Linked DNA regions of Homo sapiens. The protein of the gene in region 1 interacts with the protein of each later gene in a biochemical or structural test. Each region holds a gene or a part of one and is shown on either strand. Other genes may lie near its edges. The genes, in order: ITGB4 and EIF6.

Region 1 (5,860 bases):
TGACATCCCTATCGTGGACGCCCAGAGCGGGGAGGACTACGACAGCTTCCTTATGTACAGCGATGACGTTCTACGCTCTCCATCGGGCAGCCAGAGGCCCAGCGTCTCCGATGACACTGGTGAGTGGAGACCTGGGACCCACAAGAGGACAGTGGGGGTCTTGGGTACAGAGTGAGTCCACTGGGTCCAGAGAGGGCAAAGGGGCCAGCAACTAGAGGACATGGAGGTTAAGGCAGCCTTGGACAAATGCAATGGAGTGCACATCTGTGCATGGGGCACAGGAACCAGTGCCTGGGGGACAGACACACACAGCCTTGTGCAAGCGCACATGAGTTCATGCCCACGGGACCACGAAGAAACACAGCTTCACAAGTTGAAGGTTCACCAGCTGTGCCATGCACACAGGACACTCAGGCCACCCCCCAGGGGCAGGCCTGGCCCAGGAGCCCTGGGCAGCCACCAGGCGGCCACCTGGCAGGGGTAGGGGAGCCAAGGAGACAAGAACACCCCCAACAGCTCTGTCCTTCCTCCTTGATTCCCAGCACAAAGTGCTGCGGAGCCCTTAGCTGGGCCTCCTGAGTGCTCAGTGTCAGCTGTGGCTCCACCTGTGGGACATCAGATGAATCACTCATCCTTTCCATGCCTCACTTTTCTGCTCTGTATAATGGGATACCAATCACACAGTACCATGAGTGGAAAAACCTCTGGGGCACGTATATCTTTTGTATTTTCTTCTGTCCCTGCCGATGCCTCAAGCTGCCCCCGGTGAACACATACTGGCCCCCACGGGGCTCAGCTTGGGCTTAAGGAGCCATTTTGAGGGGTTCAGGTGGAGCGCAGCTGGTGTGACTCTGGAACCCCAGCTCAGCTGCTTCTAACACTACCTGCGAAGCGCTCGGTGGCTTGCGGAACGGTCCCTGGGAGGCGGGCAGGGGCAAGATTCCTCTCTCCATTGTACAAACGGGAAACTGAGTCTCGGAGAGGTTAAGTAAAGCAAGGGAGACCTCACAGCTGGTGACAGAGCCCAGACTTCCCCCAGGTTTCTGGCGGGTCCGGGGGTCTCTCCTCCCCAGCTGTGCCGAGGCTGCACTCGCTCATCTGGAAAGGCTTCAGCCGCGCAAGGGTTTCACCTGCCGCGGCCTTCCCGCTCCGGCCGTGCGCATCTACCCCCGCCCCCAACACACACCCCGGGATCCCGGGAGCTGGAGACGGGCTCCCCTCGCAGAGCCTACGGCCTTCCCCCGCCTGGCCCTGCTCGGCCCGGCGCCCCCCGGCGGTGCCAACGCGGCCCTTCGTTGTTCCCAAGGCTGCGGCTGGAAGTTCGAGCCCCTGCTGGGGGAGGAGCTGGACCTGCGGCGCGTCACGTGGCGGCTGCCCCCGGAGCTCATCCCGCGCCTGTCGGCCAGCAGCGGGCGCTCCTCCGACGCCGAGGCGCCCCACGGGCCCCCGGACGACGGCGGCGCGGGCGGGAAGGGCGGCAGCCTGCCCCGCAGTGCGACACCCGGGCCCCCCGGAGGTGACAGGCTCACCCGCCGCCCCCCGATCCGCGCCCACCCAGCCTCACTCGCGCCTGAGGGCCTGGGGTGGGCGTCTGCGCTGCCTCGGGGGCCCCAGTTTCAGCCAGGCCCGGGCCTTGGCGGCTGGGAGCACAGCTGCTCAGAGGCAGGGCCCAGTGCCAGGGGACGCGTGAGGCAGGCGCTTGGGCCCTTATGGTGCCTGCCTGGCCAGGGGGTGCAAATTCAGAAGTCTGCCCGGGAAGCGGACCCTGGCACCCAAGTAGACCCCTCAGGGGCCTCAAAGGACAGGAGGGAAGGCTTGGGGATCTCCCCAGGGCAGAGCTGACTGCAGACGCAGCAAACCCCCGCCACTGCCAGGGTCAGCAGTGCTCACACCGATAGAGTGGCCGGCCAGAGGATATGGGCTGTGGAAGCCTGGGTGGCCCTTGGGCTCCTGCAGGGACAGAGGGCCTCTGTCCCTAGTGGTTTGAGGGAAACTGGTTGTATTTAAGCAAAAGCCACCCAGAGGGTGGGTGACCAGGAATGTGCAGGGCCCAGCCTGCCCCACGGGGCCCGGGTCTGGGGCAGGCCTGACCAAGGGACCCTGCTCTCCCCCTGCAGAGCACCTGGTGAATGGCCGGATGGACTTTGCCTTCCCGGGCAGCACCAACTCCCTGCACAGGATGACCACGACCAGTGCTGCTGCCTATGGCACCCACCTGAGCCCACACGTGCCCCACCGCGTGCTAAGCACATCCTCCACCCTCACACGGGACTACAACTCACTGACCCGCTCAGAACACTCACACTCGACCACACTGCCCAGGGACTACTCCACCCTCACCTCCGTCTCCTCCCACGGTGAGTGACCTCAGCCAACCCTGCCTCTCCCACTAACCCTTCCTCTCTTCCAGCTCCTGGAGCCTCGGGCTTCTGTCTGCTGTCCCCACCGCCCATTCTCCAACATACACACACGCATGCACACATGCACGCACACACGTGCACACGCATGCACACATGTACACAGACATGCATGCGCACACGTACACACATGCATGCACACTCCCTGCTCCTCTCACTCTTGTTTTGTCCTGCCCTAGGCCTCCCTCCCATCTGGGAACACGGGAGGAGCAGGCTTCCGCTGTCCTGGGCCCTGGGGTCCCGGAGTCGGGCTCAGATGAAAGGGTTCCCCCCTTCCAGGGGCCCACGAGACTCTATAATCCTGGCTGGGAGGCCAGCAGCGCCCTCCTGGGGCCCAGGTAGTACAGGGGTGGCCATCCTGTCTCCACAGCTGTCCTGCTCCATCTGTCATCCAGCCACCATAGCAGCCGCCAGCTGTGCCCACTGCTTCCCCTCCATTCCATCCACAGGACCCCCGCCTGCCCACAGGCGCTAACCACCTGCCCTACCATCAGTGCTGATGCCTAACTCTGCCTCTGCCCTCCCAGGGGGCGGGGCTGGGGCTGGGGCAGGAGAGGGGCCAGGCCAGCTGAGCAGTTGAGGGGGTGGGGCTGGCAGACTCACGGGGCTCACTCTCTTTTGGCACAAGCAGGGCCTGCACCCTGCTGGAGGATGTGCGGTAGGTGCTGGGCAGCCTGGACAGGGTGTTGCAGGGTGAGTGAGTTGTCCAGCCAGCGGTCAGTGTAGACATGCCAGCTGAGGGAGGGAGGTCAGGGGGCAGCACTGTGACTCCCACTGAGACCCTAGCCCCTGCATCTCTGGCTGACTGCGGCCTCCTGTCCCCAGACTCTCGCCTGACTGCTGGTGTGCCCGACACGCCCACCCGCCTGGTGTTCTCTGCCCTGGGGCCCACATCTCTCAGAGTGAGCTGGCAGGAGCCGCGGTGCGAGCGGCCGCTGCAGGGCTACAGTGTGGAGTACCAGCTGCTGAACGGCGGTGAGGCATGGTGGCTGCCAGGCTGCGGGGTGCAGCCCTGCAAGGCCTGGCCCCAGTGTGACACATAGGGTACCTCAGCTGTGTCAGGAACCCACCCAAGTCCCTTGAGCGCTAAAGCCCCCATCCAGCCTGAGAGGGTCTCCCACCCCATTCTCCACCCCACTTCTTTGCCTCCCCTCTTCTGAGGTCTCACCCACCTCCCTGGGCCTCTCTCCTGGTCATTCTCTGCTAGGTTTTGCCTAACAAGGCCCCTTTGGGCTGGGATCCTAGGGCCTCTGCTGGCCTGAGATGCCTTTGGGGGAACAAGGAAGTGGCACTTCCCTGGGCAGGCACATTCAAAGCAGCATGACCAGGATGCAGGATGTTGCCTAAACATGAGTGGGATTACAGGCTCCACTCTTGTATAGTACACAATCTGAACAACCAGCCATACCATACTGTACCCAACCTGTACCCAAACCACAGCTAGTCCTGGGTGGGTGATAACTAGGTCTCGATGGCAGCTTAGGGACGAGGAGGATCAGGCCAGGGGTGGGAGTAACACTGCACTACTGTGTGCCCCCACCTGATCCCCCCAGGTGAGCTGCATCGGCTCAACATCCCCAACCCTGCCCAGACCTCGGTGGTGGTGGAAGACCTCCTGCCCAACCACTCCTACGTGTTCCGCGTGCGGGCCCAGAGCCAGGAAGGCTGGGGCCGAGAGCGTGAGGGTGTCATCACCATTGAATCCCAGGTGCACCCGCAGAGCCCACTGTGTCCCCTGCCAGGTGAGTTGCCTCCCCCAGCCCCAGAGCTGCCCCCATCATGCCCACCACCCACCCACAGGCTGATGCTCTTCCTCTACTGCCCCCAGGCTCCGCCTTCACTTTGAGCACTCCCAGTGCCCCAGGCCCGCTGGTGTTCACTGCCCTGAGCCCAGACTCGCTGCAGCTGAGCTGGGAGCGGCCACGGAGGCCCAATGGGGATATCGTCGGCTACCTGGTGACCTGTGAGATGGCCCAAGGAGGAGGTGCTGCCCACCCCGGGGGCAGGAGTGGCCAGGGGAGGGGTAAAGAGGGGGCCGCAGACGCTGAAGGCATCTTCCCTGCTCAGGGCCAGCCACCGCATTCCGGGTGGATGGAGACAGCCCCGAGAGCCGGCTGACCGTGCCGGGCCTCAGCGAGAACGTGCCCTACAAGTTCAAGGTGCAGGCCAGGACCACTGAGGGCTTCGGGCCAGAGCGCGAGGGCATCATCACCATAGAGTCCCAGGATGGAGGTAGGCACCTGTCCTTTCCTTCACCCCCACCCCTCCTCGGGCCGTGCCTCCTTCTGGCACCACCCTCTGACTGGCCTATCTGCCCACCCCAGGACCCTTCCCGCAGCTGGGCAGCCGTGCCGGGCTCTTCCAGCACCCGCTGCAAAGCGAGTACAGCAGCATCACCACCACCCACACCAGCGCCACCGAGCCCTTCCTAGTGGGTGAGCACTGAGGGCTAGGGGATCCCGGCTCTCCTGGGACAGGGAGCTAGCAGAGGGAGAAGGGCAGACCCCAAGCCAGGTCATCTAATGCCTCCTCCTCCACAGATGGGCTGACCCTGGGGGCCCAGCACCTGGAGGCAGGCGGCTCCCTCACCCGGCATGTGACCCAGGAGTTTGTGAGCCGGACACTGACCACCAGCGGAACCCTTAGCACCCACATGGACCAACAGTTCTTCCAAACTTGACCGCACCCTGCCCCACCCCCGCCACGTCCCACTAGGCGTCCTCCCGACTCCTCTCCCGGAGCCTCCTCAGCTACTCCATCCTTGCACCCCTGGGGGCCCAGCCCACCCGCATGCACAGAGCAGGGGCTAGGTGTCTCCTGGGAGGCATGAAGGGGGCAAGGTCCGTCCTCTGTGGGCCCAAACCTATTTGTAACCAAAGAGCTGGGAGCAGCACAAGGACCCAGCCTTTGTTCTGCACTTAATAAATGGTTTTGCTACTGCTAGGCCCTGCCTTGCCCATTCTTCTGGGGCCTGAGAGGTGCTCCCCTAGGGTAGGGGAGCGGTTCTGACATCCCCCATTCTCTGACACCCAAGCATACACCCACCTCTAGAGGAGGCAGGTACCACATTGGAGGCACAAGTTTATTGAGCACCCGGATATGGAAGATGGCACCGGGCACAGAGCCGTGGGACTGGCCTGCAGGCCCCGCACCCTCACCGTGTGCTGTCCTGGGGGTGCCTCACAAGCACAGCACCTTGGCTCCATCGGCTGCTTGAGAGAGGTAGAAGGTGGCAGTCCCGCCGTAGTGCTCCTGTAAGAGGCGGGCTGGGGGTGAGTGGCAGGGCCCCGGGAAGCTGCCGCTCCTGCCCGCCCAGGCCCTGGTGCCCGCCCACCTGGATGTGCCGCATGGCGTGGGGAGCAGCGGAGGCCTCCAGCAGTGTCACCGTGCAGCCACCGAAGCCACCGCCCGTCATGCGGCTGCCATAAACCCCAGGCACAGCA
Region 2 (16,235 bases), on another chromosome or scaffold:
GCGTGGGGGGAAGTATACAAAAATACAGAGCCAAATTTGTACACCTGTGCCTTATTTACAACAGCCAAAAGGTGGAAGCAACTCAGGCATCCATCCATGGAGGAATGAGCTAAATGTGCTACACACATGCTACATACATGCAATGGGATGTTATTCAGCCTAAAGTGGAAGGAGATTCCGACATACGCTACAATGTGAAGGAACTTGAAGACATGAAGCTACGTGAAATGAGCCAGTCACAAAAGGACAAAACCGTATGATTCCACTTAAATGAGATACCTAGAGGAGTCAAATTCATAGAGACAGGAAGCAGAATAGTGGGCGCCAGGGGCTGGGGGAGGGGGAAATGGGGAATTCGTGTTTAGTGGGTACAGAGCTCTAGTTTTGCAAAGTGAGAAGAGTTCTAGAGATGGATGGTGGTGAGGGTTACACCACAGTGTGAATGCACTTACGACACTTAAAGCGTACCACTTAAAAATGGTTACAATAGCAGATTTTGGCTTGGTGCAGTGGCTCACACCTGTAATCTCAACACTTTGGGAGGCGGAGGCAAGAGCATCGCTTGAGGCCAGGAGTTTGAGAGTAACCTGGGCAACAGAGCAAGACTCCATCTCTAATTCTTTTTTTTTTTTTTTTGAGATGAAGTCTCGCTCTGTCACCCAGGCTGGAGTGCAGTGGCGTAATCTCAGCTCACCTCAACCTCTGCCTCCCAGGTTCAAGCGATTCTCCTGCCTCAGCCTCCCAAGTAGCTGGGATTATGGGCGCCTGCCACCACAGCCACCTACTTTTTGTATTTTTATTAGAGATGGATGGGGTTTCACCATGTTGGTCAGTCTGGTCTTGAACTCCCAACCTCAGGTGATCCGCCCACCTCGGCCTCCCAAAGGGCTGGGATTATAGGCATGAGCCACAGCGTCTGGCCACGAATTATTTTTTAAAGGCAAATTTTATGCGTATTTTACCACAATTAAAAGATACAGAGCCAAAGATATGTACCTGAAGTAGATGTATACACACTGCAAGATAAACAAAACTAACTCAGTGACACGCAAACATGCCTCCCTCCCTCCCGGGAGCACTTCTACCACCCAGATAAGACCCTGGTTGGTCCTCCCCTTCAAACAAATCTGGAGATAAGGCCCTAATGATGGCCCTGCCACCTCGGCTGCCCCCACAGCTCATCACCCTCCCACGGTCTGGCTTTGTTTACTCAACCTTCTGCCCCTCTTGCAGCCTCCTCACCCCCATGGAAGGGCCTCCTTGGAGTGCCCGGTGCTCCTGCACCTGGGATGGGATGGAGTAGGCCATAACTCCTGACCTGTGGCTCCCCCATGCTCCCCCAGGCCCTTCACTTATAGGGTCCTTGAAGACACAGCCCTAGCCCCATTCACCTTTGGTCCTAGGGCTCAGCTCAACTCCGGAACCTCTAAATCCCACCCAGCTCCCTCCCACTATATGTGTGTCAAGTTCTTTGGACACAGAAGACCCTGTGTTCCGGACATGATCGCAGACCAGATAAACCAAGTGCGCTTAGTGCTAAACAGGCTGCGAGGCACGGCTTTAGGTCTTCTGCGCTTCCCGCCATCCTCGCTGGACCTCATGCCTCCGTGGAAAGGTGGTGACCGCTTCTGCCTAGCCTGGCTCCCCAGCTGCAGCTGTCACCTGCTCACCCCCTTCCCCAGAGCAAAGCTGCTCACCATCCTCCGAAGGACACACGGTACATGCTCCAGGACTTTAATCTTTGTTGGGGCAGAGGTCAGAAATCTACCTGCCCTGTTTGCCTCCTGACCTTGCAGTGTGTCCGCCCATTCTCTGAAACAACCTTCCAACCATTTTCATACTCAGCCCTGGAGGAGGGGAAGAAGGCTGGGGTCTGGCCACCACCAGGCCAAGAACATCCCTGGAGTTAAGGGTGTTGCAAGCACAGCCATCTGGAACAGCATGTCTCAGGGGTGGGCCTTAGCCCACTGCCCACAGTGCACTGGGCACTTGTTTAAAAACTCAGGAATTTGAGGTTACAGTAAGCTATGATCACATCACTGCTCTCTCTAGCCTGGGTGACAGAGCAAGATCATGTCTCAATTAAAAAAGAAAAATGGCCAGGTGTGGCGGCTCACACCTGTAATCCCAGCACTTTGGGAGGCTGAGACAGGAGGATTGCTTGAGGCCAGGAGTTCAAGATCAGCCTGGGCAACATAGTGAGATCCCATCTCTAAAAAAATTTTAAAAGTAGCCGAGCATGGTAACATGCACCTGTAATCCCAGCTACTCAGGAGGCTGAGGTGGGAAGATCGCTCGAGTCCAGAGAAACTGAGGCACAGCTGTAGTGAGCTGTGATTGCGCCACTGCCCTCCAGACTGGGTGACAGAGCAAGACCCTATCTCAAAAAGAAAAAGAAAAAAGACAAGCTCCAGAAGCCTACGGACACCTTCTGGATGAGAATTTCCAGGAGGGTGGGGCCCGGGGATCTGCATTTCATCACCTCTCACCACCCCTGGGGTCAGGGTGAGAGCCACTGCTCTAGGTTCTTGAAGGACAGCTCCGAGCCGGGGTGGGAGAGAGCCAGGGGGCTGTGAGCACCACAGTTAAGATGATGGAGAGTGGCAGGACGATTATGGGAGCAAAAAGAGGGCTGGCTGGGGGACAGACCAGCGTTGATGTCCTTGGATATTCCATGTGACAGTCGTTCAGCTCTCAGGGCCTTGCAGACTTGAGCCAGGGCACGTGCTATCCACTGTGGTATGTGTTGTGGGGGTCATGGCCGGTCTCTACATCGGCGTTTGGGTGAAGAGTTTATGCAAGTGGATGTGATTACAATGTGTGGTCGGTCTGTGTCAGCCCACACTCCATGTCTGTGTATCGGTCAGTTGTCAGTGTGTCCATCTGCATGGGTGTTCATGTCTTTTCCTGGGTGTCTTGAGTCGCTCACCCACCTGCAGTGTGTGTGCGTGTGCGTGTGAGTGTGTGTTCCTGAGTCGCCTGGGCCCCTCTTGGCTGTAATTCAACCTCTGTGGGTCCCGGGAAGTCAGCATTTGGAGACTTGCTGGGAGCCTGGTGGGGATGGGGCGGCGTTGCTGGGAGGAAGAGAGGGAGGCAGGAGTGTGCACCGAGGGCCTGGCACTGCCGCTTCCCTGGGCAGGCGAGTCCCAACACAGGCAGACAGGTGGGGCTGACCTGACAGGTTCCAGAGGCCAGGGGCAATAGGGTGGAGCGTGGCTCTGATTTAGGGTGGCAACAGTTTGGGGGCCCTGCCACACACACAGCGAGCGGGCGGGCAGAAGGCGGTTCTGCTGGTCTCCTCTTCCTGCTGCAGCCAGCCCAGCGTGCGGGCCATGGGCCCTGCCGGCGGGTGAGGCAGCCGCGTGGCAGGCATGTTCGGAGGCCCGGGGCCTGGGGTCCTGGGAGCCCAGGGCATGGCGGGACCCCTGCGGGGCCGGGTGGAAGAGCTGAAGCTGCCGTGGTGGCGGGAGAGCTCACCGCTGGTGCTGCGGCACAGCGAGGCGGCTCGGCTGGCGGCCGACGCCCTCCTGGAGCGGGGTGAGGCTGCCTACCTGCGGGTCATCTCCGAGGAGCGGGAGCTGCCCTTCCTGAGCGCCCTGGATGTGGACTACATGACCAGCCATGTGCGCGGGGGCCCTGAGCTCAGCGAGGCTCAGGGGCAGGAGGCCTCCGGGCCAGACCGCCTCAGCCTGCTCTCTGAAGTCACCTCAGGGACTTACTTCCCCATGGCCTCTGACATAGACCCCCCAGACCTGGACCTGGGCTGGCCCGAGGTGCCACAGGCCACAGGCTTCAGCCCCACCCAGGCTGTGGTCCACTTCCAGAGGGACAAGGCCAAGAACATCAAGGACCTGCTGCGCTTCCTTTTCAGCCAGGCCCACACGGTAAGGGCCTCATCTCTCCATCACTCATCTCACAGAGGAGGAAACTGAGGTCCAGAGAGGGAAGGGACCAGCCCAAGGCCACACAGCGACTTAGGGGCAGAATGAGGACCAGCACCTCTGGCACTATTAGATTGCAAACTCCTAGAAGGGGGACATCCCATATTTACCTTGGCAACTGCTTGGTACCCAGGAATAGTATGGATGAGCATAGAACAGGGCATGGGTGTCAGGGACTCCACAATCCCCTGAAATGCACACGAAGTGGTGCAGGTTGGAGGGAGGAGTCCTCGCTGCATCTTTACCTTGGAAGATGCTCCACTGCCTTAAATCAGATTCTCAAAAAGTTTTATGATCCCCACACTAAGAACTCCAACCTTGGGGAACATCTGAGTCACCTCCTTCACTTATAGAAGAAGAAACTGAGGCCAGAGAGGGGCTTGGGACTTGCCCAGGGAGGTCCATATGGTGACATAGAGCTCAGGGCTTGGGGAGACAGGGGCTCTCTGACTTGGGTCCTGGGGACCAGTCCGGCCCTCCTTGCTGGCTCAGGTCCCTAGTTGCCCCCTACCCTCCTGCACCACATCTGCAGCTGGGCCTGAAGCAGGGGAAGGGGCCAGCGTGTGGGCCTCTTTGGCGTGGCCTTGAGGGCTGGGCTTTGGAACCAAGGAGGAAGGAGGAGAGGAGGCTGCTGGGCTCAGTGATGGGGAGCGGGAGCTCAGGAGAAAGAGAATTGGGAGGGCAGGTAGGGGTGGTCAGCACCCAGAAAGGCTCTGGCCACACACGAGCACAGCTTCCCTTCTGAAGCCCTGGCCTCCGACTCCAGGGGAATGGACGAGATGATCCCTGGCAGGGTTTGAGGGAGAGTTAGGCTCCTGCTGCAGAGATGGGAAGCCAGGATGCTGGGATCCCACCGGTACTTCCAGAGCCTCCCTGGCAAGCCTTCCTGTGCCCCAGGCAGGGGACGGCCAGGCCTGATTGGCATCAGGAATGGGGTTATTAGTGAGGCTGCTGCTGTCGTCCTCCTCACCCCTGCCTCTTTGATCTTCCTGCCTGTCCTTGTTCCCCCACCCTGGCCAGGCCTGTGCTGTGAACTAGGGCATCCCCCAGTGCCTCGCCTTCTCAGCCCCCATTTAGACCCCTCTATCCTGGGTCAGGAGCCAGGTTCGTGCACTGGGCTGTCATGACTCCTAGTGACCTTGGGAAATGCTGCGTTGCCCTGCAGCCCAATGTTTATAGAGCTCTGTTATGTCTTGAGCATTTTCACATTTAATTCCCTGTAACTCTGAGACATGGCTATCATTATCTCCATTTAACAGATGAGGAAGGTGAGGCTTCCAGAGGTGAAGGGACTCACCCAAAGCTGTGTCACCAGGAAGTGATAGAGTCCAGGTTTGAACCCAGTTCTTTCTGACTCCAGAGCTGGAGTGCTATGCTCTGTACCTCCTGCCTCTCGGCCCTGCCTGGGAGAGAAGACTCTCATAGCAGATATATGCCATGGGAAGAAAGGCCAGCTGGGGGCTGGGAGGTGCCAAGAAGGTTTCAGGGGCCTCTTTGAGGCAGCCCTTTATATGGGATGGAGGCACAAGCCCCAGCCCAGCCCTCAACTGAGCAGAAAACTTGGATCCATTTGGCATGGGTGCAAGTAAGGGAGTCTGCAGTGTAAGGGGTCACACCAGACCTCTGTGGCTTCACAGGGAAACTGAGGCAGGACTGGGAAAGGGCAGCGAAGACCCCAGTAAGTGGCTTGTAGCTGTGACCCTGGAGAAGGGAGCCTCAGACAGACAGTCCCTGGGTCAGAGCTGGGCTGGAGTTAGTCGGGGGAGTGCCAGGAACTTGCCTGGGAATTGGGGTCTGGGTTCTCCTTCTCACTGCTGTCCCATCTGGGGCTCAGTGCAGAGGGAGTGTTGGACTAGCACAGCTGATCCACAGTCATCTTTGAGAATCTGATGATGGATAAACACTCGGTGCACAGAAGGATGCACACAAATGCTTTCAAACAGCTAGGGGTTCAAGACAGTCAAATCTGGGCTGGGATTTGACTGTAATCCCAGTGCTTTGGGAGGCTGAGGTGGGAGGATCGCTTGAGGCCAGGGGTTCAAGACCAGCTTGTGAGAACCCCATCTCTACAAAAAATTAGAATTAAAAAAAAACTAGCGACTGGGCGTGGTGGCTCACGCCTGTAATCACAGCACTTTGGGAGTCCAAGGCAGGCAGATCACAAGGTCAGGAGTTTGAGACCAGCCTGGCCAACATGGTGAAACTCCATCTCTATTAAAAATACAGATTAGCTGGGCATGGTGGTGGATGCCTGAAATTCCAGCTACTTGAGAGGCTGAGACACGAGAATCGCTTGAACCCAGAAGGCAGAGGTTGCAGTGAGCCGAGATCACGCCACTACACTCCAGCCTGGGCAACAGAGTGAGACTCTGTCTCAAAAAAAAAAAAGAAAAGAAAATTAGCCAGGCATAGTGGCACATGCCTATAATACCAGCTACTTGGGAGGCTGAGTTGGGAGGAGATTGCTTGAGCCTGGGAGTTCTAGGCAGAAGAGAGCTATGATCACGCCACTGCACTGCAGCCTGGGCAACAGAGTGAGACAGACACTGACTCTTAAAAAAAAGAAGACAGTCAAATCTGCCTGTGCCCAAGTTAAGAAGCCCTGGGCTAGGTCACTGCTAAGTGCCCTTCCTGTTCACTTGCTCTTGAAGGCTCTGGCCTCCTGATTTTCAGTCCAGTACTCTTTTCCCGGCGCCCAGTTTCCTGCCCCAGGTTTGGCTGGATGTGGGGAGTGCCCTGGGCAGCGCTGAGCTTTCGTGTGCCTCCCCCCACCCAGGTGGTGGCTGTGGTGATGGACATATTCACTGACATGGAGCTTCTGTGTGACCTCATGGAGGCCTCAAGCCGGCGTGGTGTCCCTGTGTACCTGCTCCTTGCCCAGGAGCACCTGAGGCACTTCCTGGAGATGTGCTACAAGATGGACCTCAATGGGGAGCACCTGCCGGTCAGTGAGGACCAGGGGCAGTAACCAGGGGTGTGGGCGGGGAGTCAGGGAGGGCAGGGGAGCCAGTGGGTGGCCAGTCAGCACTGGGGGGCACTGGGAGTGGGGGGTGGGTTCCCTTAGCTGTCTGGGGTTAGAGACCCCATGGGGCAGAGACATGGCTTGAGCCTCACTCTCTCAAGGTCACCCCCAACCTACTTCCACCTAGAACATGCGTGTGCGGAGCACGTGTGGGGACACATACTGCAGCAAGGCTGGCCGCCGCTTCACGGGGCAGGCCCTGGAGAAGTTCGTCCTCATTGACTGTGAGCAAGTGGTGGCGGGCAGTTACAGGTGAGCAGGCACGAGGAGGCAAGGGGGGCCTGGGGCTGCATCACTGGCTGGCAGCTCTGAGCTTCCCTCCACTCATCCTTTCCTTCGGACACGGGCTGAGTACCTGCCATGTGCCAGGCATCATGCCAGGCTCAGGGGAGGGTGTCGGGGGCATCGGCCCTGGAGGAGCTCACTCTAGGGGAATGATTACTTTAATACCCTTGGTATAGAAAATGACTATGCCCATTGGAACTGGAGTGACTTCAGGGAACCTCCCCCAAGTCCATTTGACAGATGGGGAAGTTGGGGCCTCCATGAGGTCACACACTAAGCAGGGCTAGGGCAAGCACAGACTCTGGAGTTGGAGCTCTGCCCCTCGCTGTGAGCCCTCGTGGTGGTGGGGTTTGGGTCTAGCGTGCTGGACCAGGTATGCACCCCTGGCTGTGACTCCTGCCGACCCCCAGGATCCTGCACTTTGCCTCCTGACCCCCCTGTCCCTCTGCCCCCAGCTTCACCTGGCTTTGCAGCCAGGCCCACACTAGCATGGTGCTGCAGCTGAGGGGCCGCATCGTGGAAGACTTTGACCGGGAGTTCCGCTGTCTGTACGCTGAGTCGCAGCCTGTGGAGGGCTTCTGTGGCGGTGAGGACCCGCTGTCTCCCCGGGCACTGCGTCCTCCCCCTGTGGCCCTAGCCTTCAGGCCTGATGTCCCAAGCCCCACGTCGTCCCTGCCCTCCAGCACCAGCCTCAGCAGCATCAAGCAGTCACCGCTTATGGGTCGCTCCTCCTACCTCGCTCTACCAGGAGGTGGTGATTGCAGTGATACGGGTGTGGTGTCCTCGTCCCTGGGTCCTGCCCGCCGTGAGGCCAGTGGCCAGCCCTCCCTACATCGCCAACTGTCAGACCCTAACCACGGCTCCCCTCCTGGGCTCTATAGGGCCAATCTCGGCAAGCTAGGGGCATACCCATGGTCCCAGTCCTCCCCTGCCCTCAACCATAATAGTACCAGCCCCTTAACCTTGGCAGTGGGGTCACCTCTGCTTCCTCGCTCCCGGCCCCTCCTCCAGTTCCATCGGGGTGCCCCAGCTCTGTCCCGGTTCCCAGAGAATGGGCTCCCAGGAAGCCAAGAGCCCAGCCCCCTGCGGGGTCGATGGGTACCTGGCACAACCCTGGAGACAGTGGAGGAGAAGGAGAAGAAGGCATCTCCAAGTCAGAGCCGTGGCCAGCTGGATCTCCTTGTCCCCTTCCCCAGAGCCCGAGAAGTGGGAGACCCTGACTCTGGGGTTACCCCCAACTCAGGCCCCCTTCGGCCTGGCGAGCAGGCCCCAGAGGACAGGAGGTTGTCCCCAAGCCAGGCCGACAGCCAGCTGGATCTCCTGTCCCGAGCCCTGGGTACTGGGGGTGCCCCTGAGTTGGGTTCCCTCAGACCTGGTGATCGGGCCCTGGAGGACAGGAGGCTGTCCCTAAACCAAAGCCGTGGCCAATCAGACCTCCTGATGCAGTACCCCAAGGCCCAGGGTTCCAGAGTGCCCCTTGAAACCAACTCCTCAGCCAGACCTGCCAGACGGGCACCAGATGAGCGGCGGCAGACCCTGGGGCACAGCCAGCTGGACCTCATCACAAAGTTCGGCCCATTCCGTGGTGAGGGGCCTGGGCCCAATGGTCTCCCGATATCAAGCCCTGCTCGCACGGCTGGAGCTGGGTCTGGGGATGAGAAACGGCTAACCCTGGGCCACAGCAAGCTGGACCTCATCACCAAGTATCATCAGTTGCACGGGGCCAGGCAGGGAACTGAGCCTGGGGGTCCCAAGGGTGGCCATCTCAATGGTGGTAACAGTGACCTGGTCAGGGATGAGAAACGGCTGACCCTGGGTCACAGCAAACTGGACCTCATCACTAAGTACAACAAGTCCAAGTTCAAGCAGCTCCGAAGCCGCTTTGAGTCCTAGCCAAAGGACTGGCATCGGGGGTGCACTGGCAAGGGCAGGCCCCTCCTCTGTCCACCGAGACTCTGGACTTGCTCAGGTCCCAGACTGGGGAAGGGAGGTGTCTAGAAACCCAGGTCAGACACACTCTCTGGGCTCAAGATTCTTGTGTACACACACACACACACACACACACACACACACCCTAACTAGTATCTTCTTGAATCTAGGCTGTGTTTCCAGCCCTGTGCTGGGCCTGTAGAGCTGACAGGTGGGTCACACTCAGACCTGGGGACAGAGGTGAAATGCACAAGCTGCTGGAGAAGGGGTCAGAGCCATATCAAGTTAAAGGTTAACCAGTTACAGAGGGTGTTAGAAAACAAAGGGCAGAGAGTCCTGGAGAAGGTGGAGTAGTCAGAAAACTTTCTTAGAGGAGATGGAGGTGGCCTTTGAGCCAGGCCCTGAAGGATGGGGAGGTTTTGGACAGAGGGAGGAGAGAGTTAGAAAAATTTTTGGTAGAGAGAATCAGGTGAAAGAGATGCCCTAAAGAGGACTGAGTGGGTCTGAGGTGAATGAGTGAGGAAGAGCAGAGTATGTGGATACCCGGAAACACACACACACACACATCATCATTATCATCATCATCATTGTCGTCGTCATCATCTTGCTGAGTCATCATCATCATCATCATCATTGTCGTCGTCATCATCTTGCTGAGTGTCTCTTGAAGTACAGGCTGTGACAGGTTGTGGGCCATTTTCCTGAACTCACCACTTACCCGGGATAGTAAACATGATACACATCAATAAAGGCAGACTTTATTGTGAATCACAGCGCCTGGTGTATCCTGAACTTTGAGGAGTTATGGGAGGGACACGTTGGGGGAATGGGAAGGGCACCATTCAGGCCAATTATGGGGAAACCCCTGGAGGAGGGTGAATGCCGAAGGAGGAATTGGGGGAGTCCAGGGGCTCCAAGTTACCACTGTGACATTTTGAGAGAACCCGGGGCTTTTGCAGATTCTACAAAATGTGGGCCAAGTTCATCCTGTCCAAGTGTGCAGCAGGGCCCTTGGCCCCCATCACTATCCTGGGGACAGAAGTTGGCTGCTGAGTGAGTGATAGAGGCCGTGCGAGAGGCACATCGTGGAAGCCAACCAGCACCCACATCCTTGCCCACCCTGGACCCCTTTCCAGCCTTTTCCTGAGCCCCTGCTTCCTCAGTCCTCCCCTCTCTCCAGCACCTGCAGCCTGGCTGCCTTTCCGTCTCTGGCTGCGCTCTTTCTCCAGCCTCGGTCTGGCCGCACTTCTGCCTCCTGGAACTCTCTCCATGGGTAGCCTCTTCTAGTCCACCCGTCTTCAGCCCCTCATCTCATTCGTCAGCACTCCACTCCCCTGCTGGGCTCCAGACATGGACTTCTGTCCCTCAAGGCACAGCTGGACTCATCCCTTTCCCCAAACCTGCCCTTCCTCCGGCTTCATTTCCATCAATACCTCCATCATCAACCCTTCCGCGAGACACTCCTGGCCCCTCCTCTCCCTCATGCCTCACAACCGACCAGCCGGAGGTCTAGGTCGATGACAGCTCCTAAAAAGCTCCTGAATGAATAATGAATGAATGAACGCGAGCAGGCTAGGCGTGGGGCCAGGCGGGGTCGCGCCCAGACCGCTCGCGACCATAGAGTCCGCCGGAGGCCGGAGGTAGAGGGGCTGGATGCGTGGCGGGGAGCGCCGGGCTCTCCCGGAAGTCTCCCTGGACGGAAGTGGAAACGGAAACCTTTTTAGGGAGTCCAAGGTACAGTCGCCGCGTGCGGAGCTTGTTACTGGTTACTTGGTAAGCTGGTGTGAGGGGAACCTGGGAGGGTCAGCTCCGGTCCTGGGTCGGGAGGGGTGGGGGCCAGAGGATTCAGGGCCGGAGGTTCTGGTGGGGGCCCAGTGGGCGGGACCCGAGGACGGAGGGGCCGGGAGGCCGAGAGGGGCGGGGTCGCGGCGGGGCCTGAGGGACGGAGGCCGGGATACTTGGGAAAGGATCCGCCGGCCTTGAACTCCCGCCTCCGCCGCCCCTAGGCCTCATGGCGGTCCGAGCTTCGTTCGAGAACAACTGTGAGATCGGCTGCTTTGCCAAGCTCACCAACACCTACTGTCTGGTAGCGATCGGAGGCTCAGAGAACTTCTACAGGTGCGGCGGGAGCCCCGGGGCTTACGGTGGCGGGGAGGCGTGCGCAGGAGTCAAGAGCTCCGGCAGTGGGAGGGTGCCGGCCCCTCTGCCCCGCCACCACCGAGTCCATGTCCCTACAGTGTGTTCGAGGGCGAGCTCTCCGATACCATCCCCGTGGTGCACGCGTCTATCGCCGGCTGCCGCATCATCGGGCGCATGTGTGTGGGTAAGGCAGGTGGAGGACGCCGAGGGAGGGAGTGGTCTCCAAGCACCATTAATTACACCCCCGGAGGGAACCCGGAGTGACCTAGGGATTCCCAGGGTATCATCTGTTATCTCTGGGCACTATAGAATCTCTCAGGCCAAGCGTCAGGAGATCGGGGCAACCCTCTAGCAAAGGCTGCTGGATAATAGTAATAACAAATAATGTAAAGTGCTTTCACTCCTGTTCTCATTCCTTCGTCACAAAGACACTAGAAGGTAGGAGTTACTGGCCTAACTTGACTGATGAGGAAGTTGAGACTTGACCTAAGTGACTCAGTAAGTTCCACACCTAGTTCCTAGTGTTGGAGAAGGATTTTTCTCTTTTTTTTTTTTTTTTGAGGCCAGATTTTTGCTCTTTCGCCCAGGCTGGAGTGCAGTGGCAAGATCACAGCTGTCTGCATCCTCAACTTCTTAGGCTCAAGTGATCCTCCCACCTCAGCCTACCAGGTAGCTAGGGCCACAGGCACGTGCCACCACACCTGGCTAATTTTTACATTTTTGGTAGAGACGCGGCCTCCCTGTGTTGCCCAGCCTGGCCTTGATCTCCTGGGCTCAAGTGATCTTCTTACCTTGGTCTCTTAAAGTGTTGGGATTATAGGCGAGAGCCACTATACCCAGCCGAGGATTTGTATCTCATCTCTCCCTGCCACTGACTGGGCAAGGTGCTTTCTCTTTCTAAGCATCCATTTCTGTCTCTGTAAAGATTAGCTAAGATATGCGGTCTTCCTGCTCAGTTACGTTGGAATCTTAAATTCCCTTTACCACATCTCTACCCTACCTTCCTACCTGTCAGCACTGTTAATTCTGGTCGTTGGTCCTTTCCTTTTTATTATTATTATTATTTTTTTTTGAGATGGAGTTTTCGCTCTTGTTGCCCAGGCTGGAGTGCAATGGCACGATCTTGGCTCACTGCAACACTCTCTTCAAGTGATTCTCCTGCCTCAGCCTCCCAAGTAGCTGGGATTACAGGCGCATCCCGCCACACCCGGCTAATTTTTTTGTATTTTTAGTAGAGATGGAGTTTCACCATGTTGGCCAGGCTGGTCTTGAACTCCTGACCTCAGGTGATCCTCCCACCTCGGCCTCCCAAAGTGCTGGGATTACAGGCGTGAGCCACTGCGCCCGGCCGGTCCTTTCATTAAGCTGGATCTGTCTTCCATTACTGCTGCCCATTGTTTCTTAGTTCTGCTCATTGAGGTCACTTTTAGAAGTCTGTTTATTTTATTTTTTTACTTTTACTTTAATTTTTAAAAATCTTAAGCCTGCTTGGGAGGTCGAGGCAGGTGGATCACCTGAGGTCAGCAGTTCGAGACTAACCTGACCAACATGGAGAAACCCCGTCTCTACTAAAAATACAGAAATTAGCCGGGTGTGGTGGCGCATACCTATAATCCCAGCTACTTGGGAGGCTGAGGCGGGAGAATTGCTTGAACCCTGGAGGTGGAGCTCACCCTGCGGTGAGCTGAGATTGTGCCATTGCATTTCAGCCTGGGCAATAAGAGTGAAACTGTGTCTCAAAAAAAAACAAAAAACAAAAAACAACAACAACAAAAACTTAAGCCTAGTGACCTCAAAGTATTTTCCTATTCAGTTAAAATACTCTGATCTCTAACCATGCCCTTAGGACTTGAAGCAAGTTCTGACAACAAGGGAGATTTTAGCTTAGTCCTTGTGTATTTTATGATGGGAGTGACCTGGAATTCAGAAATTGATTGGCGTGTATTTGTAGATTGTTCATTCTTGTTGCTGTATGGTGTGTTTTGTGTAAGTATATCACAACGTATTCATCCATTCCATCGACAGTGCATTTGGGCAGTTTTCACTTTGGTCTGTTAGGAATAGTGCTGCTGGCCGGGCATGGTGGCTCACGCCTGTAATCCCAGCACTCTGGGAGGCCGAGGCGGGCGGATCACGAGGTCGGGAGATCGAGACCATCCTGGTTAACACGGTGAAACCCCGTGTCTACTAAAAATACAAAAAAATTAGCCAGGTGTGGTGGCGGGTGCCTGTAGTCCCAGCTACTTGGGAGGTTGAGGCAGGAGAATGGTGTGAACCGGGGAGGTAGAACTTGCAGTGAGCCGAGATTGTGCCACTGCACTCCAGCCTGGGCAACAGAACAAGACTCCGTCTCAAAAAAAAAAAAAAAAGTAATAGTGCTGCTATGTTTTTTTAGTGAACACATGTACATATTTCTACTGGGTATATGATACCTAAGAGTGGCATGGCAGAGTCACAGGTTATGTGACTATTTAGTAGTAGTTGCAGATGATGCCAGATAATTATCTAAAGTGATTGACCAACTTACACTCCTGTCTCAGTATGAGAGTTCAGTTGCTCCATATATCTTTGCCAACACTTGGAATTGATGACTTGTAAAAATTTTAGTCATTCTGGCTGGGGGCAGTGGCTCACACCTGTAATCGTAGCACTTTGGGAGGTCGAGGTGGGCGGATCACCTGAGGTTAGGAGTTCGAGACCAGCCTGGCCAACATAGTGAGACCCCATCTCTACAAAATCACAAAAAGTTAGCCAGGTGTGGTGGCACGCACTTGTAATTCCAGCTACTCAGGAGGCCGAAGCAGGAGAATCACCTGAACCCAGGATGCAGAAGTTGCAGTGAGCTGAGATCGCACCACTGCGCTCCAGCCTGGGTGACAGAGTGAGACTCTGCCTTAAAAAATAATAATCTAGCCATTCTGCTATGTGTGTAGTGTTAGCTCAGTTTTTTTTGTTTTTTTGTTTTTTTTTTTTGGAGACGGAGTTTCGCTCTGTCACCCAGGTTGGAGTGCAGTGGCGCGATCTCGGCTCACTGCAAGCTCCGCCTCCCGGGTTCACGCCATTCTCCTGCCTCAGCCTCCCGAGTAGCTGGGACTACAGGCGCCCGCCACCACGCCTGGCTAATTTTTTGTATTTTTAGTAGAGACGGGGTTTCACCGTGTTAGCCAGGATGATCTCGATCTCGATCTCCTGACCTTGTGATCTGCCCACCTCAGCCTCCCAAAGTGCTGGGATTACAGGCGTGAGCCAACACGCCCGGCAGCTCAGTTTTTAAGTAGCAAAATATACAGCTAATGCCAAGAGCTCAGCTTCCCTCCCAGTTGGTGATGGTGAAGTAGGCAGGATTTATTGGGATTCCTGGGTGGTCTCTGGCCTGCCCTGGGTGTTTTCCAGATCAGTGGGTTGGAGGGCTGGGCTCTGGGCCTAAAGCTTTCCTGGGAAAGCTGATTGGGCTGGGCTGAGTGGTATCCTCAGCCCCTAGGGCTCAGCAGGCATCTTGTGTATTCACCCTCTAATTTGGGTTTCTCCAGGGAACAGGCACGGTCTCCTGGTACCCAACAATACCACCGACCAGGAGCTGCAACACATTCGCAACAGCCTCCCAGACACAGTGCAGATTAGGCGGGTGGAGGAGCGGCTCTCAGCCTTGGGCAATGTCACCACCTGCAATGACTACGTGGCCTTGGTCCACCCAGACTTGGACAGGGTGAGGCAGCCCAACTTGACCCAAGAGTCACAGGGCCATCCTAGTCAGTGGTTAGCCACTGTTCTTTCCCAACAGGCAGCAATTAGGGGTCTCTCCTGTGGTTTTTCTATATGGGCTCTTGAGTTTCAGGTACTCATTGGAATAGTGATAACAGAGGCCTTATCAAGTGTCAGAAAGAAGCTGGGGAGGGTATGAATCCTTCATGATTGGGGAGATTGAACCATCCAGTCCTGCATCCTGGGCCAGGATAGGTGATTGACTGTTGAACTTTTGACTGTGGGTGAGAGGGGAAAGAAGTGATATTGAGACCAGCCTCCAGCTGTTCAGGGCATGCATGAATATTAGGGGCTTCACAGCTGCCCTTGACTCTGCTCTAAGCTGTACTTCCTCCTTTCTCTGGGTGAGGCTTTCATATGAGGTACAGAGGAGAAATGAGGGGCTCAGGGAGCCAAGGCCTGGATGCTTCTGGGCATGGAGAACCTTGGTTCTGGGGCTGTAAGTTCTGAGCCCTGAACACAATATCTTTGATTGACAGGAGACAGAAGAAATTCTGGCAGATGTGCTCAAGGTGGAAGTCTTCAGACAGACAGTGGCCGACCAGGTGCTAGTAGGAAGCTACTGTGTCTTCAGCAATCAGGGAGGGCTGGTGCATCCCAAGACTTCAATTGAAGACCAGGATGAGCTGTCCTCTCTTCTTCAAGTCCCCCTTGTGGTAAGCATTCCTGTCCTCTGAACCCCGTCTCCCGAGGCAGATCCTTTTGCCTAGTGTTTGGGAGTCTGGGTCATTACCTGCCACAGTTTGGGACTGGGGCTGCAGGTCAGGGAGGAGCAGGGTTTGGGGAGAGTCTTCATTGAGGAGGGAGAGAATTTGGTGCCGTGACTCACATTGAGCCCATCCCTTGGCAGGCGGGGACTGTGAACCGAGGCAGTGAGGTGATTGCTGCTGGGATGGTGGTGAATGACTGGTGTGCCTTCTGTGGCCTGGACACAACCAGCACAGAGCTGTCAGTGGTGGAGAGTGTCTTCAAGCTGAATGAAGCCCAGCCTAGCACCATTGCCACCAGCATGCGGGATTCCCTCATTGACAGGTACCTGGGGCCTCTCCTTTCTTCTGCTCAGGGTTGGGGGTTAACTTGCATTTTGAGAGTATGGGGAAAAGATGTCATCTAGAATGGGAGCCTACCAGTTTGTTCTGGTAGCTTCTCGAGTGTGA

Evidence for each region.
Region 2: the proteins of ITGB4 (region 1) and EIF6 form a complex in vitro, tested with the Homo sapiens proteins (one study listed by BioGRID).

What each region holds. Positions count from the first base shown.
Region 1 is NC_000017.11:75,752,459-75,758,318, forward strand, and holds the end of ITGB4 (integrin beta-4 isoform 1 precursor), read left to right. Parts: coding exon 1-119; intron 120-1,306; coding exon 1,307-1,516; intron 1,517-2,117; coding exon 2,118-2,357; intron 2,358-2,596; coding exon of another isoform or gene 2,597-2,755; intron 2,756-3,242; coding exon 3,243-3,392; intron 3,393-3,970; coding exon 3,971-4,159; intron 4,160-4,245; coding exon 4,246-4,401; intron 4,402-4,484; coding exon 4,485-4,649; intron 4,650-4,741; coding exon 4,742-4,852; coding exon of another isoform or gene 4,853-4,863; exon of another isoform or gene 4,864-4,957; coding exon 4,958-5,097; 3' UTR 5,098-5,360; downstream 5,361-5,860. Other genes in the region: GALK1 (galactokinase), read right to left, coding at 5,598-5,669, 5,752-5,860. UniProt on the Homo sapiens protein: Integrin alpha-6/beta-4 is a receptor for laminin. Plays a critical structural role in the hemidesmosome of epithelial cells. Is required for the regulation of keratinocyte polarity and motility.
Region 2 is NC_000020.11:35,279,441-35,295,675, reverse strand, and holds the start of EIF6 (eukaryotic translation initiation factor 6), read left to right. Parts: upstream 1-10,903; 5' UTR 10,904-10,950; intron 10,951-10,958; exon of another isoform or gene 10,959-11,183; 5' UTR 11,184-11,188; coding exon 11,189-11,295; coding exon of another isoform or gene 11,296-11,414; coding exon 11,415-11,500; intron 11,501-14,846; coding exon 14,847-15,022; intron 15,023-15,557; coding exon 15,558-15,734; intron 15,735-15,928; coding exon 15,929-16,110; intron 16,111-16,235. Other genes in the region: protein FAM83C, read left to right, coding at 3,372-3,884, 6,718-6,885, 7,091-7,215, 7,704-9,141. UniProt on the Homo sapiens protein: Binds to the 60S ribosomal subunit and prevents its association with the 40S ribosomal subunit to form the 80S initiation complex in the cytoplasm. Behaves as a stimulatory translation initiation factor downstream insulin/growth factors.